Regions from separate parts of the Homo sapiens genome. Here region 1 is linked to region 2. The links come from fine-mapping of genetic effects on gene expression. Tissue or cell type: whole blood. Region 2 holds a variant in brackets; the other region holds the start of a gene. All regions are shown on one strand. Distances are from middle to middle.

Region 1 (5,394 bases), 26 kb before region 2:
AGGCAGAGCAGCTCCGAGGGCTGCTGGTTGCCCATTTTTATGCTTATTTCTTGATTATATGCTAAACAACGGGTGGATTATTCATGCCTCCCCCTTTTAGACCATCTGGGATAACATTCTGGTGTTGCCATGGCATTTGTAAACTGTCATGGTGCTGGTGGGAGTGTAAAAGTGAGGAGGACAAGAGGTCACTCTCATCACCATATTGATTTTGGTGGGTTTGGGCTGGCTTCTTTACTGCAAACTGTTTTGTCAGCAGGTTCTTTATGACCTGTATCTTGTGCTGACCTCGTATCTCATCCTGTGACTAAGAATGCTCTAATATCCTGGGAATGCAGCCCAGTAGGTCTCAGCCTCATTTTACCCAGCCCCTGTTCAAGATGGAGTTGCTGTGGTTCACACATCTCTGACAAAAATACAGGTGGGATTATTCTCATTTTACAGATGGGGAAGGAAAAAAAAAAGAGAAGTGCATGAAGACACTTCTACAGCTTCTACTCTCTACTGGATTGTGCTTTTCGCAAAGTTTCCTAGCAAGTTAGAGTAGTGAGCTCTCCAGCTGTGCTTCTGCTCCTTCACATTTGGGATTCTTTTTCCTTCTAGATCTGTATATTCTGTCTTATGCATGCCCCATTCCATTAGTTAGCCATTTTTCTTTTTCAAAAATTTTTTTAATTTGATTTTTTTTTTTTTTTTTAGAGATAGGGTCTCGCTCTGTTGCCCAGGCTGGTCTCAAATTCCTGGGCTCAAACGATCCTCCCACCTCAACTTCCCAAAGTGCTGAGATTACAGGCATGAGCCACGGTGCCTGGCCCCTCAAAGTTAGCCATTTTCTTATTGGCTATTTTTCAAATTAGGTTGATCCCAACTTTACACTATTGAAAACACCATTGCCTGAATATTATCATACACCTATCTTTATCTAAATCTGATTATTTCCTTAGAATCTATTACTAGAAGTGGAATTATGGAACCAAAACCCTCCCTGTTCTAAATTTAGCTGAAAAATGTTTTTCCCCGGGTGATACAGCTTATGATAGGCACAGGAAGATAGGTAGGAGGAAATAGCAGTGTGGTGGTTTTGGATTAATTTATTAATTTACAACAAAGACTTTTTAAGCACCTACTAGGTTGGACCTCAGGGGAAATCACTGGAGAGTTGTATCACAGGGACTTTCTGGACTTGAGCCTGGGGTGTAAAGCAGGCAATATGTAAAGCTGGAGAGACAAAGATGGATAAAATGCCTTTAAGGATTTCACAGTATAACAACAGATAATAGTAAGAGTTATTATTACGCAACACTTCTAAGATGTCTGATGAGTATCTCAAACTTGATGTGTCCAAAACTGAAGTCTTGATCTTTCCTCTAAACCTGTTTTTCTTACTCTCGAGCTTACTTATTTATGAAAGTGATACAGCCATCCACTCAGTTGCCCAAACCTAGATCAAGGGGGTCATTGTTTATTTCCCCTACCCAGCTGATAAGATTCCAGCAAATCCTGTCCCCCTACCTACACAATATAGAAATATCAACCCAATGCTCCACTCTGGTACAAGCACCATCATCTCCATCTACATGGTCCCCTAACATGTCTTGCCTTATCCACTCTTGCAACTCTCCAATCCCTTCTCCAAAAGCAGCCAGATTGAACTTGTAAACATCACACCATAACATCTCCCTGGTTAACACCCTCGAATGGTTTTCCATTTCACTTAGAATAAAATTCAAACTCCTTCCCACTACCTTCAAGGCCCTGCATTCTTCTGGTCCCTGCATTATCATTATATGGCTCTATCAATTACTATCCCTCCCTTGGCTCACTCAATTCCAGACACTAACATCAGGGCTTTTGCATTTAGCTGTTTCATCTGTCTGTGTGCCCTTCCTGGAACTTTGCAGGGCTTCTCCTCACTTCTTTCAGAACTCATCTAAAATCACACCCTCAGGCCTGCCTTCCTTGGGCAGCATGCTTATATTATAGCCACATTCTCCGCCTCCACCAACCCCTGCCCCCCGCCCCACTGCCACCTTTTAACCTCTCAATTTTTGTTACTTCTGACAAAGATTCTCTTCTTTGGCCAAAACTCTAGTCAGGCTCCTGTGAGTCCTCTGCCTACTAGGACTAACCGTTTGGGCTTCCTTTCTGTCCTTGTTGAATCCAGTTTGTGCAGGGACTCTCCACTCTTGGCGTCTTAATCCATTTTTTGTTGCTATAACAGAATACAAAACACTGGGTAATTCATAAAGGAAAGAAAGTTATTTTTTGCAGTTCTGGAGTCTGGGGAGCCCAAAGTCGAGGGGTTGCATTTGGTGAGGGCTTTCTTAAACTGCATGGTAGAGAGCCTCTCACGGTGAGAAAGCAAGAGCATGTGTGCCAGCTCAGATCACTCTTCCTCTTCTTATAAAGCCACCAGTCCCATCACAGGGGCCCTACCCTGACGATTTTATCTAATCCTAATCACCCCCTCAAGGCTCCACCTCCAAATACCATCAACATATGAACTTTAGGATTGAGTTTCCAACGTATGGAATTTGGGGGACACAGTCAAACCATAGCACTCGGTATCTGACCACCCTCAACATCTTAGCACCCTGTCCTGCTTTCAGCAATAATCCTGTTAGGTCAGTTTAGCAAGAAACTTCTTATCCTTGATGTTTCTCTTAGTAGTTTTCCGTCCACTGACCCTCATCCTGCTCTTTGGTTATAAATCCCCACTATATCTTGTTGGAGTCAGAGTTGAGTCTAATTCCTCTTCTTCACTGCAAGATCTGGTTGTAGTGGTCCCTGTAACTATCACCATGGGCTCTCTTACATAAAGTCTGCCTTACCATCTTTAATTAGTGCCATGAACAAATTTTCCTTTAACACTTTTCAGCATTTATTTCTCTATATTTGTCTATTGTTTGTCTGACCCACCAAGCACTGTTATGTACCGTGACTGCAGACACTTGTTCCTCATTTTATCCCACTGCTTGGTGCACAGGAGACATTTATTAAATGTTTGTTGAATGAATGAATGACAAGCACTTGTCACAACGGTAACTCTGTGAAGACTAGGATCCTATCCATTTTGTTCATTACAAAATTCCGCCTAAGCCTTGAACAAGGCTATGAGTTATAAGTGCAAAGCGATTTAGAGGAAGGAGGGGTAACTAAACTGACTGAAGAAGCTAAGGGAAGCCTCACAGATAAAATTACATCTAAACTGAAACTGAAAGGAAGGTGGAAAACTAAAAAGATCAACAAGGGAAGGACTGCAGACAGAATATCGCGAGGTATTGGTCAGCCAAGATGGCTTCTAACACTGGCCGCCACACTTAATATGGCGGCCAGGGAAATTTCCTGGAGAAAATCACGCGAGAGTTGCATCACGGCGGCTGTGCGCGAGTTAAGCTGGGGGTGTGGAGCAGCCAAGATGGAGCCGGCAGTCGGCGGTCCGGGCCCACTGATCGTGAACAACAAACAGCCCCAGCCCCCGCCACCTCCGCCGCCGGCAGCCGCACAGCCACCACCCGGGGCACCGCGGGCCGCCGCGGGCCTCCTGCCTGGGGGCAAAGCCCGCGAGTTCAACCGCAACCAGCGCAAAGACTCAGAGGTCAGGAGCTTCGGGGGGCGAGGCTCGCACCGGGTCGGGCGGCGCCGGGGGTCCCGGGCCCGGGGCCACTCTAGGGGCCAGGTTGGGCTTCCCGGAGGGCTCGGTAGAGTCCGGCCGAGAACTGTCACTATACAGCGAAAGGAGCAGGAAGCGAGGCTGGCAGCTCCTGGGGTCTGGAGCATGAGTCCTTGCTCTAGCTCCGCCGCCCGGGAGAGCTTCCCGTGGCCGGCGACTGCTGGTTTGCTCCCCTGGGCCCCGACTGTGGGCGTGGCCTCGAGGCCCTAGCCCCTGGGGAAGCCGCTCTCGCCCCAGCTCGGGGGTGAGGAGTCGGGGGTCTTGGTGCACTCCAGGGCGCTGGGCTGCCGCGCCCCCAACCTAATCATCTCGGGCGTCTGTCCCTGGCACGCGGGCTCCAGCTCCTGGGTCCTGCCGCTCGCAGAGGAAGGCGCGTGTGGGCAGGGAAGGCGCCGGCGAGGATCTGGAAGGAACTTAGAGCCGGACCGAGCTAATTATCATTGAGAGTAGAGTAGGAGGGGGAAACATGTCCTGTTCTTCTGACCTGAGCCAGATCAGGCCATGGGTTAACAGTACCTGTGGTGGGCTATTGTGCCCAGTGCGCCTGATACTGAACTGTTAAAGATGAGAAATAGACATTTTAAGCATGCGTTAGGACCCAACATTCCTTCCTGTCTCGCTAGTGAGCCGTTCCTGCCGTTCTGGAGATGGCATAGTCTGGAACTGACTAGTAACCTCACCCCAAGTTAAGGAATTCCTCCCACTGCCTCCTTTTGCAGAATTCATGAATGAAGATACTCATGTCGCGGAGTTTTAGGGCTTCTTAATGAGCAGGTTCCCAGAGCACTTACTATGCCATCTCCTAGATTGATCAGCAGCCAAACTGATCAGCCAAGTTAATGAGAGGGAATTCCTAGTTGTCCAAGCATAATGTACCAATTCATACCAAAGAGCAATGATACTACCTTTAGACCTGTGGAATCAGTTCCTCAGAAGCTTTTATTTTTTGTTAGCAAGGCTAAACCCCTGAGAAAACATGTCAACAATTGGCAAGCCCGAAGTAGACGTAATTTGAGCTTGGAGTGAATTATTTGAAAAAAACAAAAACACTGACCATTTAGGAGCCCTGGCATGGTGGGATGACGGACATCAGTGTTAACTACTCAGTTTTTCAAGTGGAAGATTACGAAAGTGCAGGGGGGTGAACCTACCTTCATCATGAGAGGAGTTATCATTTTGAAAAATGGTTTAAAATTTTCCAGAGTAGCTACGAATGGTCAAATAGATACCCTCTGACGAATTGTAATTTCTCTTTGTACCCTTTAATTTCCACATAGAGGCCGGGTGCAGTGGCTCACGCCTGTAATCCCAGCACTTGGGGAGGCCGAGGCGGGCGGATCACCTGAGGTCAGGAGTTCCTGTCCAGCCTGGCCAATGTGATCAAACCCTGTCTCTACTAAAAATACAAAAATTAGCCGGGCGTGGTGGCTGGTGCCTGTAATCCCAGCTACTCAGGAGCCTGAGACAGGAGAATTGCTTGAACCTGGGAGGTGGAGATTTGCAGTGAGCCGAGATTGCACCATTGCACTCCAGCCTGGGTGACAAGAGCGAAACTCTCCCCGTCTCAAAAAAAAAAATTTCCTCATAGACTCATTACATGAAAGACCAGTCAAATGGACACATTTAAGCAGAGACCTGTCTAAATCCATTTCTTTATAGAGAGTCTGATGCCATGATCTTTCTTTAGTCATAGCTGAAATCGGTAGTTTGGGAGCCTGATC
Region 2 (5,936 bases):
ACAGCCATAAGAGCAAGTAAAAGCAATAGCATGATAGGTAACAGACGTCTGAAGGGCTTACCACAGGTCCCACTGGTCCCAGCCTCTTAGTATTGGAGGAGAGATTGCTGGGGGAGCCAGCAGTCGCTAAGTGGGAAGGAAGGGGGCTCCAGCATCAGAATCAAGGGCTCTGACAGCTGACGCTTGATGCTCACCACCTTCCAGGTGAAATGCCTGGGATGAGCCTGTGGAGGAGGCTGGGGCAGGGGAAGTCTTTCCTCTGCTGGATAAAGGAAATGTTAGGGTCTTCCCAGTTCCTGGCCATGCTAGACTCTTCCCATCTGGAGCTGCAGAGGGTCTGCACTTTGGGGTTGTAATTCAGGTTGAAGTGTAAATGGGAGAGGTGGGGAAGGAGGATTGAATGCCTTGCATGAGAAGCATTTCCAGCTGCTGACTGAGGTGGGCAGACTAGACTGATGGGCCCCCTGGCTGTGGCCCTCCAGTCCTGACCTGGTGTCCGTGTTTCTGCCAGGACCAAGATTTAGGGCTCTGGCATCTTCTCTGGGGGAGACAGGAGCCTCAGCAAAATGAGCTGGGATTTCAGGAGGGGCCACTTCCCCTTTCCCTTCCCAGAAGGAGTGGCCAGAGCACAGGCCTGGCCTTGAGGAACCACTGGCCTGGGCGGAGGTCTGAGGTTAGCTCTGGAGTGAGGCTGAGGGCAGGGTTATCTGGAGACGGGGCCGTGTCTTAGGGGTGTGTGGGAGGAGGAGGGACACAGCTAATGAGAAGCAGGTGGAAGGGCTGCTCATGCCCCAGGCAGGGGACAGGCTGGCTGGGATGGCCCAGTAAGTAGGAGGACCTGTCACCTCACAGACAATCCCACAAAACAGGCTCCGGGATACCCATTCATATTCATTATATGTGAAGTGGGCGGTTGTAAAGTTAGCTTTCTCTTCATTTAGCTGTCACTGGACAGAAAAATATGAGCTGTGGGCAGATGCCCCTGGATGAGAGCCAGTAGCCAGTCTCTGGCCTCTCTGTGCCCTCCCCTAGGAGCCCCCGACCCCGCCATGGGTCCCCTCCTGGCCTCTGCCAGCCTCTCCCACTCTTGCTTCATTGACCTCTGGCTCACCTTTATTTTTTCTCCTGTCTCTTCCCACTTCTGGTTTCTTTGTTTGGGTTTATCACAGATCCTTTCCTCTTCCCTCCTTTCATATTTCTAAGCCCTCTCAAGAGAGAAGAATCATATTTTTCCTCAACCATCGCTCTATCTCTGGCACCCAGCACATTGCCAGGCTGAGTTGGCACTCAAAAATGTTTGTAGAACAAACTACTCTCTCTATACATCTTTCTGACTTGGTGGGGAAGAAGGTCCAAAACTTTGCTGATGACTCCTTGGATGAAGAAACTTCTCATACAGTGGTGTGAGCCCTGGAGTCAGAATGGTTGGCTTGAGCCCCAATTTCATTACTGCCTGGCCAGGTGAAGGAGATTCTGTTCATCAGTGGCAGCCAGGGATGTCTCTCCTTCCTACCCTGACTCTCCTCTTTCTGCTGGGTCCCCTCCCGGATACAGGGCTCACACCTGTGGACCTCAGAGCCAGCGTCAAGACCAAGAGGAAAGAAATCACCAAAAGCCAGACCCTTGTATAGAGGGAAGGGGAAGGAAGGGAGGGAAGACAGACTCCTCTGGGGATACATGCGACTGTCTTGGCTGGGAAATCTGATCTGGTGGGGGACTCACCCCCTCCTCTCGAATCAGCTCAGCCCTGATGTGTCTTTGTGGGCTTGGGTTTCTCTGTGCCTGAAAGATGAGGCGTGGGGTGGGGGTGGCCGGGCTGCTGGTTGAGGCTGAATTCTTCTGAGCAATGTGGTTGTGTTTACTGGGAGGGTGGGAGGGCCAGACCTTTTTCCTGCCTTCCAGGCTTCGGAGATAAGGCAGAAAGTGAGGATGAAGGATAGAATGGGTAATACTCTGAAACCACAAGAAAGAGTTCTGGCTTTTGTCTCTGCCCCACAGCTCAGACATTTCCTGGGGCATCTGGAAGGAAGCTGACCCACTCCCACCACCCTGGGGTCCCAGCCCATGGGGAGCACAGAACCTCAGTGGGCACCCCTTTCTTCCATTCTACCTCCTTTCCATTGTCAGTTTAGCCACAAAATTATTTTAGCTTTTTTACTGCCAGTCCCACCCTCAGTTTTCCCTGCCACATGAGCCCAGCCCTAGAGCTGAGCTTTTCTCCCTGCCTCCCAGCACAGCCAAAGCCACAGAGACCCTAGGCAGGTGACAGAGCCCAGCCTGGCATGCATCGGCCTTGAGGGCTCTGCTGCAGGACCACCTTCCCCTTCCTTGCTGGCCTCTCAGGGGTCGTGGCCAGCCTGCATCCTGGACACAGACCAGCCCCAAAGCAACCAGTGCCAAGCCCTGGGGATAGACAGTCACCTGGTATAAAAAACACCACCACCTTTATTAGAATGCTGGGCAGCCTTTTTTTTCTCTCTCTCTCCTTTTTTTTTTTTTTAAACAAAAAAAACACAAAAGTGTCTGTACAAAAATGGGGATCAGGATCTCAGTCTGTAGAAATCTGTTTTATTCTTACCAACATCCAATATCATTTCCATGGCATAGCTCTGGGCTGGTCCCGTGGAAGAGATTCCAAATATGTGGTGATTTCTGGTGGAATTTCTGCCCCCTTGGAGGGGAAGATGACTGCATGGCATGCTGGGAGTGCAGGCACATGGCAGGAGTGAGGGTGGCTGGAGCTGAGGAGCCAGTGTGCCTCAGTCTATGCTGACCTTGGCCTTTACACCCTCCTTAGTGTCAGACACCAGTGCGCCCCCTGCTGGTGGGGAGGGGAAGCAGGGCTGACTCCACCCCATCATGGGAGACTCCCTTTTGGTTTCCATCTCATCATGAAGAGCTTCAGTCCACGCGGCGTTCTCCTCCCATTTTCCTGGGTTCCCTGAACGATGAGCCAAGTAAGCTGTCTTAGCTGGA[G/C]AGATGACAATGGACTTGGACAAAGTCTGGAGGAAGCAGGGCAGTGTCTCCCTGCCTCCAGCCCAGAGTTCAGGTGAGGGGACTCAGTTTGTGGTAGGAAGAGTCCTGGCTGCTTCGAAGCCCCTTCTCCTAGGCAGCCCCACCTTGTTCTAAGAGAAAAGACCCTGTAACGTGTTCCCTGCTGGGGGCTGACAGTGCCAGCTGCTCTCGCAGCCTCCAGAACCATCTGGGGCTTGGAGGCAGAGGTGGGCTGGGAGCGACTGGGAATGGAAAAAGAGGTGGGCAGCTCATTCTGCAGGTCCATGCAACCGATCACGTGGTCCAGTTCAGAAGGCCGGGTGGCTCCTTGGGCTTTACCCTGAGCGAGACGAGGCTTGGAGACTTATAGTCACCATCTGAGGAAGGCTCAAAGCTGTGGCCCCCCAGGGTGGGGGGAAAGCCATGGATGGAGTAGATGCCAGGGTGAGCCGCAGAAGGGGCTGGCACCCCCATGAAGCCAGCCACACTCCCATGGGGGTGGGAATATGGAGACATGCATGGGGAGGGGATGCCCTCTGGAGACACAAGGCAGGGGCCTCCAGGGCTCCCAGATCCTGGACTGGCCCACAGGGAGTTCTGCAGCTGAAAAGAGAGGGAAAGAAGGCCCATGAGCCTGTAGCCTCAGGAGCTGACTTCCCTACCCAGGGGCTTTCTCTTTGTCCTTGGGGCCCCAGAAACTTTCCAGGAAACCTCCACTTGGCTCAGATCTACCCCCTCTCACCCCCAACACTGGCAGTGGCATCTCAGGAGGCCCCTGCCACTGTTCTCAAAACGAAATTTTCTTCTGTGATTCCTTTGTGTTCCGCATGCGTCATTCATGAGACAGGCAAGAGCCCCGGTTTGCAGAGAAAGAAGTGAAGTGGTGTACCCACTGTCATACAGAACGCTGACGCTCTCCAGGTTTCTTCAGGCCAGACCTCATATTCTTTTTGGTGACCCTGCCAGGTCCTGGTTCAGGTAGGGCTGGGGTCTTACCTGAGGGTGGCTGTCAGTACGGGGCAGCACAGAGATGTCATAGGCAGCCGTGAAGGGGTTCCGCCCCTCCTGGATCTTCCCATAACGCTCGCGCTTCCGCCACTTGGCTCTGCGGTTCTGGAACCAGACCTGGGGGCAGGTTGTGGGGGTTTGAGGGGGTGATAGGGCAGCCCTGAGGAAAGGAGCCTGCTAGGGAGAGCTGATGGTTGTGTCCTCTTGTGGGATGGGGAGCAGGCTCCAGGATGGAGGATCTCAACTGTTAATCCACACTGTTCTCCAGGCCAGGGAAGCCTGGGAGGAAGCCTGGGAGAGGCCCAAGCCCACAGTGGGTAATTGGCCCCATGGGCCTCCAGCTGTCACTCCCCAGGTTGAATCACTGTGGTCCTCCAGCCTGGCTGTGTCTAGTAAGGGTGTTGTGGGGGCATCTGTGGGCCTCAGGGGCCCTAGGTACTTCCTGGGTATACTGTGTACATGTGTTGGGTTTCTAGTCTCCCTGCCTCATCTCCTTTTCCAGGCTACCCACCTCATAGCATCCGAGGAATCTTAGACATTTCTGTTCAGGTCATGGTCCTGTTTAAACCCTCAGTGACTCCCTGGAGACCTTGGTCCAGAGCATAGCTTCTTAACAAGGCCCCTGCCTCTCTGCACAGCCTCATATCCTGCCAGGCAAACACATTTATTCTTCTGGTTGCCTCCCAAGCTCCCGCCCAGCTCTTCTGAAACACTGCTATCTTGCTCCTTCCATCTTTTGCTTAGGTTTTCTCTTCCTGGGCTACTCATCCCCTCAACACATACATCCACACTGGGCATCCTCCACAGGACTTCCAAAATACCCTGGACCTCTCTTTGTACTCACCCCATTCCATTACCATGATCTGTTTTGGAATCTGTTTCTCCCATTTATTTGTGAGCCCTTGGCAGATAGGGGTGGCACATCTGTGTGTTGTGCACATCTGTGTACATATCTGTGATGAATTCGTTGTTTGGTATATGTGCTGTGACTGTTACATTTAACTGTATTGGTATATATGTTTTGTATTTCTATCATTTAATCAACATTTATGTGTCAGCCTCTAAGCTAAATTTAACAATGTCAAAATAAAACCAACCAAACAAAACAACCCCTGCTTTCCAGGGATATCTAGCTGGGAGTCACAACAGAAGAAAGCTGTGTGTGTGTGTGTGTGTGTGTGTGTGTGTGTGTGTGTGTGGAGTAATCCGTCTACCCCAGCTGGGATCAGGCTTCCTGCCCCCATGGTCATTCCTACACATGCAGGCAGGTAAGGCACCAACAGTGAAGGGGCTGTGCATACCCCATCCCCCTAGCTCCCAGATTGCCAAGATAAGAAAGCAGGCCTGCAGCAAGGTCAGCAAAAGGCCACCCCCACCTGCCCAGCTGCCTGGATTTCCTTTCTCTGCTCTCCCTCCCCTGACAGAGGATGAGGGAGCTTACAGCCAGTGAATCTGGCTATTGGAACTCACTTTTCTGTCACCACCCATTCTCCCTTGGGGATCCCGCTGTAGGCCTCCCCTGGGCTCTGGACCTGCCCTCTGCATTATCTGGTGTGTAGTCTCATTCTTCCTCTCCATAGGGCAGGGTGTATGGGTGGGTTTCACACCCCTGCCAGAGAAAACATTCCTACTCCAGGGTCTCCATCCTTCAGGAAGCTTCTAGACTAGGGGTGAGGGCCTCATGGCTACTCCTGCACCCTCTCAGGTTGAAAAGGCCTAGGAGAGGAGCAGAGGAAGTGCTCTCCACCTCCCACAAACACTTGCTTTGGGAAGAGCTGGTTAGACCACACCCCGGAGGCCTGCTGAGGTGACTCCATGGTCCTGATTCCCATGGCTTATATCATCTGGGGTTGCCTTGAATGCCGGGCCTCTTGCCCTGATGACCTCAGCCCCTGGAGGCCTTGGGGGACAGTCTTGGAAGTCTGTTTTGGCTC

The links. PIP is the estimated chance that this variant, and not a neighbour inherited with it, causes the effect.
Region 1: it holds the start of STRIP1, and the variant in region 2 is fine-mapped to the expression of STRIP1 in whole blood (TOPMed, PIP above 0.99).

The regions. Positions count from the first base shown.
Region 1 is chr1:110,031,220-110,036,613 of GRCh38, forward strand. It overlaps STRIP1 (striatin interacting protein 1), which reads left to right and starts at 3,405. Exons shown (of 21, transcript NM_033088.4): 1 at 3,405-3,598. The coding sequence starts at 3,419. It overlaps LOC105378895 (a long non-coding RNA gene), which reads right to left and starts at 4,220. Exons shown (of 3, transcript XR_947693.3): 1 at 4,190-4,220; 2 at 2,130-2,212; 3 at 1,077-1,218. RefSeq lists enhancers at 1-67, 3,080-3,469 and silencers at 3,470-3,689, 3,930-3,999.
Region 2 is chr1:110,057,445-110,063,380 of GRCh38, forward strand. ALX3 (ALX homeobox 3) reads right to left here. Exons shown (of 4, transcript NM_006492.3): 3 at 3,991-4,119; 4 at 2,426-3,597. The coding sequence ends at 3,289. Among named protein-coding and RNA genes, the nearest start is that of ALX3, 10 kb to the right of the region's middle. The variant G/C (reference allele first, on the strand shown) is at 2,977.